2 separate regions of the Homo sapiens genome follow, and region 2 is linked to region 1. Evidence: fine-mapped expression QTL. A gene starts in region 1. The other region holds a variant in brackets. All regions are shown on one strand. Distances are between the middles of the regions. Region 1 holds the start of ZNF830 (zinc finger protein 830). Region 2 overlaps LIG3 (DNA ligase 3).

The links. PIP is the estimated chance that this variant, and not a neighbour inherited with it, causes the effect.
Region 2: its variant is fine-mapped to the expression of ZNF830 in whole blood (TOPMed, PIP above 0.99).

What each region holds. Positions count from the first base shown.
Region 1 is chr17:34,960,281-34,963,191 of GRCh38, reverse strand. ZNF830 (zinc finger protein 830) reads right to left here and starts at 1,652. Exons shown (of 1, transcript NM_052857.4): 1 at 1-1,652. The coding sequence starts at 1,625. The coding sequence ends at 507. It overlaps CCT6B (chaperonin containing TCP1 subunit 6B), which reads left to right and starts at 1,732. Exons shown (of 14, transcript NM_006584.4): 1 at 1,732-1,935. The coding sequence starts at 1,799. RefSeq lists enhancers at 1,359-1,608, 1,689-1,768, 1,819-2,038, 2,139-2,188 and a silencer at 1,908-2,202.
Region 2 is chr17:34,989,622-34,992,532 of GRCh38, reverse strand. It overlaps LIG3 (DNA ligase 3), which reads right to left. Exons shown (of 20, transcript NM_013975.4): 4 at 2,870-2,911; 5 at 1,419-1,570; 6 at 696-862; 7 at 498-575; 8 at 1-9. Among named protein-coding and RNA genes, the nearest start is that of LIG3, 11 kb to the right of the region's middle. The variant A/C (reference allele first, on the strand shown) is at 1,240.

The DNA of each region.
Region 1 (2,911 bases):
ACTGATTAACCTACAATGACTTATGTGTTTATGAAGTGTTCTAAAAAACCATACAAAAACCAAAGAAACAAGAAAACAAACCTTTTCAACTTGATGTAGGGTTCAGAAGATACATACATTCCAAATACCACAGTAAGCATTCATCTGAAAGTTTGCCGGTTGGTCTTTCTATTAATTAAAAAAATTCAAAACAGAATACAGATTTAACTATGTACAATATTTACAACTTACAGATTTTACAACGAAATTATACAGTTAAGTCTGTCGTGGAAATGTTGGCATTTTGGTATATAACACTTCAGAAATTTCAAAAACAACTTTACCTCAAAAACATGTTACACAAATTTTCCAAAGTGCTGTAGCTCACTGGCTCATTTTATCTCAACAATCCAGTTTAGCAATCCAGGTACCCAAATCTTGAGGCATGAAGTAACCGCTATACTACTGAGAGACAGCACTTTTTATACAACAGCAGAGGCTGTTAGAAACCTTGGGTCTTTAAAACCCTATAACAATGCCCCTTTCACCCTCCAATCCTGAGACAACAAATCCTGTAGTTCCCCCTCATCATCGCTGTCAGCATTCTCTTCTTCCTTTTTCTGCAGTTCTTTTATGGTCAGGATTTCTTTAAGTTTATTTTTTATTTCATCCTGGCGATTCCGTAGCTTTTCCACCCGTCGGTAACACTCTATCTGCTCATCGATCTCCCCAATCTGGCGGTCCAACCGTCCCTCCTCATCCTCTTCGGCAACTATGGCTTCGGAAATAGTGTTGACCTGCCTCATGGCTTTTTGGAATTCGTCCCACTCTTTGTCCATCTGATCTTTTGGAGCATCAACCTTTCGTACTCTTGCATCTACCTCAGGGTCGTCAAAAAAACCTTCCGGTAACGCTTCCGCGGTGTTTTCTCTCCTTTCCACCACTTTTTCATGTATTTCTGCTTTCTCAATTGACCCTGAATGAGGAATTATGGGGGCCTTGGGAGGATTAGTACTAAAGAAATCGTTTGGCAGCACACTACTTGTTACCTCCCGTGAAGAGGAAACTGAGTGCTCCTTGCCCTGTGCGTCGGAGAGCGGCTTGCTGGCGTCCCCCCTTTTTCTTTCTCCATCTCCTTCCTCCTCCTCTTCCTCCTCCTCCTCATCTTCATAATCGGGGAGTAAACTGAGTCCTGAAGGCTTACTGGGAGTCGCTCTAATGAACTCCTTTCCTATTTTGTCAAAGTTGGTGGTCCACGCAGATGTGGAGGGCTGTACCTGAGGCACCAAGGTGGCCTTCGCTCTCTTGACATCTTGGTCGTCTGCGTCCGGCGCTTTCCTCTTGACGGAATGAGGCGCTGAACTGGCGGACGAACCCTGGCTGGCTTCCTTCGCGCCTTTCAGCTCGGCCACTTTCTCTCGGTGCTGCTTTCCCAGGACGTGAGTCTGCCACAGGAGCTCGCTCTTAACCGGAGTGTTACACAGGGCACAACTCAGCTGCCCCAAACGGTTGTACTTCGCGAATGGAGATTCTATCCGTTTCCGACTGGTGCTCAGACGCTGCTTCTCCTTCATTAACCGCCGCAATTCTTCCTGATTTATCACTCGCTTCCCTGCCGGAGTCCGGGCGGAGGCGGAGGACGCCATCTTGGCGACCAGACCCAAAACGATTCTGGTTTCCGTCGGGCGAGGCATGATAACGTCACTTCCTGTAAGGGCGATGATTGGCCGAGGCTCAAGAGAGCGTGGCGTCGCATTGCCGTTTTTGCTCAGAATCGCGACTAAGGCTTTTTTTTTTTCTCCCTCTGAACGGTTAGGCTATGGCTGCGATAAAGGCCGTCAACTCCAAGGCTGAGGTGGCGCGGGCCCGGGCAGCTTTGGCTGTCAATATATGCGCCGCCCGAGGGCTGCAGGATGTGCTGCGGACCAACTTGGGTCCTAAAGGCACCATGAAAATGTGAGACAGCGGTTGGAGCGGCCATTACGCGGCTAGGGGCCCGTTGGTGTCCTGTCGCCCTCTGAGGCAGGCGTCCGCGTAGCGCTGTGGATGTTCTTGCGAGCTTGATTTCCCTCATTCTCATCCCTGCTCTGGGGGTATTTCTCGCCTGGTGCAGGTGGAGGAGAAAAGCCTCCCCTAGTAGAGGGCCCCGGGAGTGAAGCTGTGGCGCTTCCCCGACCCCCGACTTGTCGTCAAGGTTCATATGCAGTTAGAAAGTCAGTTAATTTAGTGTCTCATTGGAAACAAAGCATTTAACTCCTCTGCTCCTTAAGACTGTATACCCTTGGTCCATAAATTCAACAAGTAGTTTTGTTTTTTGTATGGCAATGTATTGTAGTGGAGAGGACACAGGCTTTGGAGCCAGGAAGGCATGGGGTCAAATCCAAGTTCTACTTGAATACCCCGTGTCTATGGTTGTTCAGATCTATTCATCTTTTCAGTATATATTAAGCACCCTTTTCTATAGACAAGAGTGAGGAAAAGAGACCAGTGAGGGCAAAAGGGTATAAGAGGAGAGACACATCCTCATAGTAATGAACAAAATAATATTAATGGTAAAATAAGTCACTTAGGTACCAGTTGTTGGGACACAGAAATGATCAAGATAACGGTTTCTGTTCTTAAGGAGATGTGGTAGAGACGGATGTGGTAGAGTAGGATGTGCTAATTATATATAGATGCATATAATTATGCTGAAGAAAGGGACTGATGGCAGAAGGAAAAGCATCTTAAGTAACATGTTTGATCAGTCTTGAAAGAAGAATAAGACTTCACTAGTTGGAAGAGGGAGTAAAGGCCTGGGCAAAGTAATTTCAGGAATAAGAAAGACCAATGGTGCAAATCCAACAGAAACGAAACAAAACATGGTATATTAAGGGAACCAGAAGATTTGCTTGTGGAAAAGTAGATGAGGCAGGGAAGATATTGGGAAAGG
Region 2 (2,911 bases), 29 kb before region 1:
GCGTCTAACCTGCCAAGGGGTACAGGAACAAGGAAACAAAACCACTGCCTTTGTTTGACTCCATGGCTTTGGACAGCAATCTGTCCTCACAGAAGAAATCCTCATCTGTAGGGAAGGGGTTGTGTTCTATTGTCTAAAGACTTTCACAAGAGGAGAGAAAGCTCTTGGAAAATTCAGCTCTTTTGAGATACTGTGCCTATGTGGATGCCGCCTTAGCGAGGAGGGGGCTGGAGTAGGCAAGAGACTCATACTATACTCACTGAACGTATGCCACACTTCAACTGTAAGAACTCTGTGAGAAAGGTACTGTTATCTCCATTTTATATGGGAAAAAATGGAGGCAGAGACAGGTCAAGTGACAGATCAGGGTCTCACAGAAAGTAAGAAGGTGGAAGGGGGATTCAAATCCTGACTGGGACTCAAAAGTCCTGACACCAGTTGGGAACAAACAAAGCTAACAAATGACAGCTCAGGCTGTCAGCGGAGCTGCTACTTACACATGTTTTGCACCTGAGTTCATCTTCAGATCATGTTTGATCAACCTGATGATGCATTTAAGGTCATTGGCTGTACACCTAGGGGGATGAAGCACATTTAACTTGGTCTTGAAGAGCTCTGGAACCCCAAGGGAACCTTCCCTTCCCAAGAGAGTTCATCTCTCTATGGGCATGGTTTGACGGAGGCAGCTCCCCCACCTGGAGGCAATGTCCTGTAGGGCCTGTTGCTGCTCATCCTCCTTGGTGAGCTTGGACAGCCGCAGAAGGAACTCATCCACTTCCTGGATGGTAAGGAGGCTCTTGGCAGCTGGGGGGAAAGACTTGCTCTGCTCAAAGAAGACTCTGATTGTCTCTGACACGTCACCCTGTCTCCAAAAACCAAAATGCCACTGCTGCAACCCTAGGGTGGCCAAGTGTATCCCCCAAGACCCAGGACTGAAGATGAATCAAGAAATTTCAATCATAGCTCCTATCCCAACTCAACATATCTAGCCCACTTCTTAGAGACACTAGCCCATCCACAATTCCTAGAAGGGGATGGAAACTTGCCATGGTACCAGGGATAGAGTCACGGACAAACCAAAGCTTGGTAAAGCCAAGTTATAGGAGAAAACAAGCAAGAAAAAAAGAGTCCAGAATAAAAGCCCCAGGAGAGACAGAGGGGGCAAGTCTCAAATTCTGCCTTTTGAGAACCAGGCCTTTGTGGTTCAGCAGTTGTATGGTTTCCACCCTCAGAAACTTA[A/C]GAAATTAAGAGCTATAGCCTCACATTCAGCTCCCCCTATAACGGAAGCTTGCTCAAATGGGTTTCAGTTTCCTAAAACAGTATGTGTCCCAACCAGAAAAAAAAAAAGAGGCTGCAGGTGCCTGGCTTGGCAAAACCCCACCTGGAATGTAGCCTACCCTCCCTCCCGTTCCTCTGACCTGCTCTAGGTCCCGTGCCATATCATCTGGGTTGCAGTTAAAAATGCGACTGAAAAGCTTCACAATCTGCTTATCGTTCAAGTTGTAAACAGTCTTAATGACTCCTGGCAGCAGCAGCTTCACTGTTAGGTACACATCACCGTGGAAACCATCTGGAGACAGAAGGAACCCTTCTTGAGAAATAGAGCTTAAACAAATAAATATATAAACTCAAAGAAGGCTGGGCAAGGTGGCTCACACCTGTAATCTCAGCACTTTGGGAGGCCGAAGCAGGAGAATTGCTTAAGCTCACAAGTTTGAGACCACCCTGGCAACAAAGAAAGACCCCATCTCTACAAAAAATTAAAAAATTAGCTGGACATGGTGGCATATGCCTATGGTTCCAGCTACTTGCAGGAGAAGACAGGAGGGTTGCTTTAGCTCAGGAGGTCGAGGCTATAGTGAGCTGTGATCACACCACTGTACTCCAGCCTGGGCGACAGAGCAAGACACTGTCTCACACACACACACAAAAATAAATAAAAAAATAAACTCAGACCGCGCATGGTGGCTCACGCCTGTGATCCCAGCACTTTAGCAGGTTGAGGTAGGCAGATTAATTGAATCCAGGAGTTTGAGACCAACCTGGGCAAAACAGCAAAACCCCGTCTCTACAAAAAATACAAAAATTAGCCAGGCATAGCGGCACATGCCTATAGTCCCAGCTACTTGGGAGGCTGAGGCAGAAGGACTGCTTGAGCCCAGGAGGCGGAGGTTGCAGTGAGCTGAGATTGCACCCATGCGCTCCAGCCTGGGCAACACAGCCACATTTTTTGTCTCAATAAATAAACAAACAAACAAACTCAAAGAAGCAGAGACCAAAAGATATCTATATATCGCTGCCCATGCTCCTATAGTACCCTGTGCATATCGCTATAGTAGGAGACAGCATGGAGTTCAGAGGCTGGTGGATTGTGTCTGCCTCACCTTTAGCCTACAGATGAACTCTTGTTGGACAGAGTGGTTAGTTTCACTTCACGTGCCCAGTGACAAGGACATCAGAGATGCTCATCGACAATTTGTTAGATAAATGAAAGAAACAGAGTTGGAAGATTCTATTCCAAACTGTGTATATGGTTCACAAAAACCTAATTAAATATGTAGGACAGTAAATTTTCTAACTAGTCAAATAGGATGGGTTCTTCTGGCCTCCTAGGAGCAGAATAAGGGGAGAGGAAGACAGATGCCAAAGTGCTCTGAGAAAAACTGGCTACATAATTTGTGGAGTACAGTGCAAAATGCAAATGCGAGGCCCCTTGTTCAAAATTATTAAGAATTTCCAGATAGCACTACAGTACAGCATTAAACCAAGCATGGGATCCCGGGCAACTATACAGCTCACATGCCCAGGAAGGCAGCCATGGCCTTGAGCTCTCCGGAGGAAAGGCCTATTCAGGATGCTCATGCCACACCTCCTGCTGAGCCTTTCCGAAGGAAGTCCTGGATGATCTGGG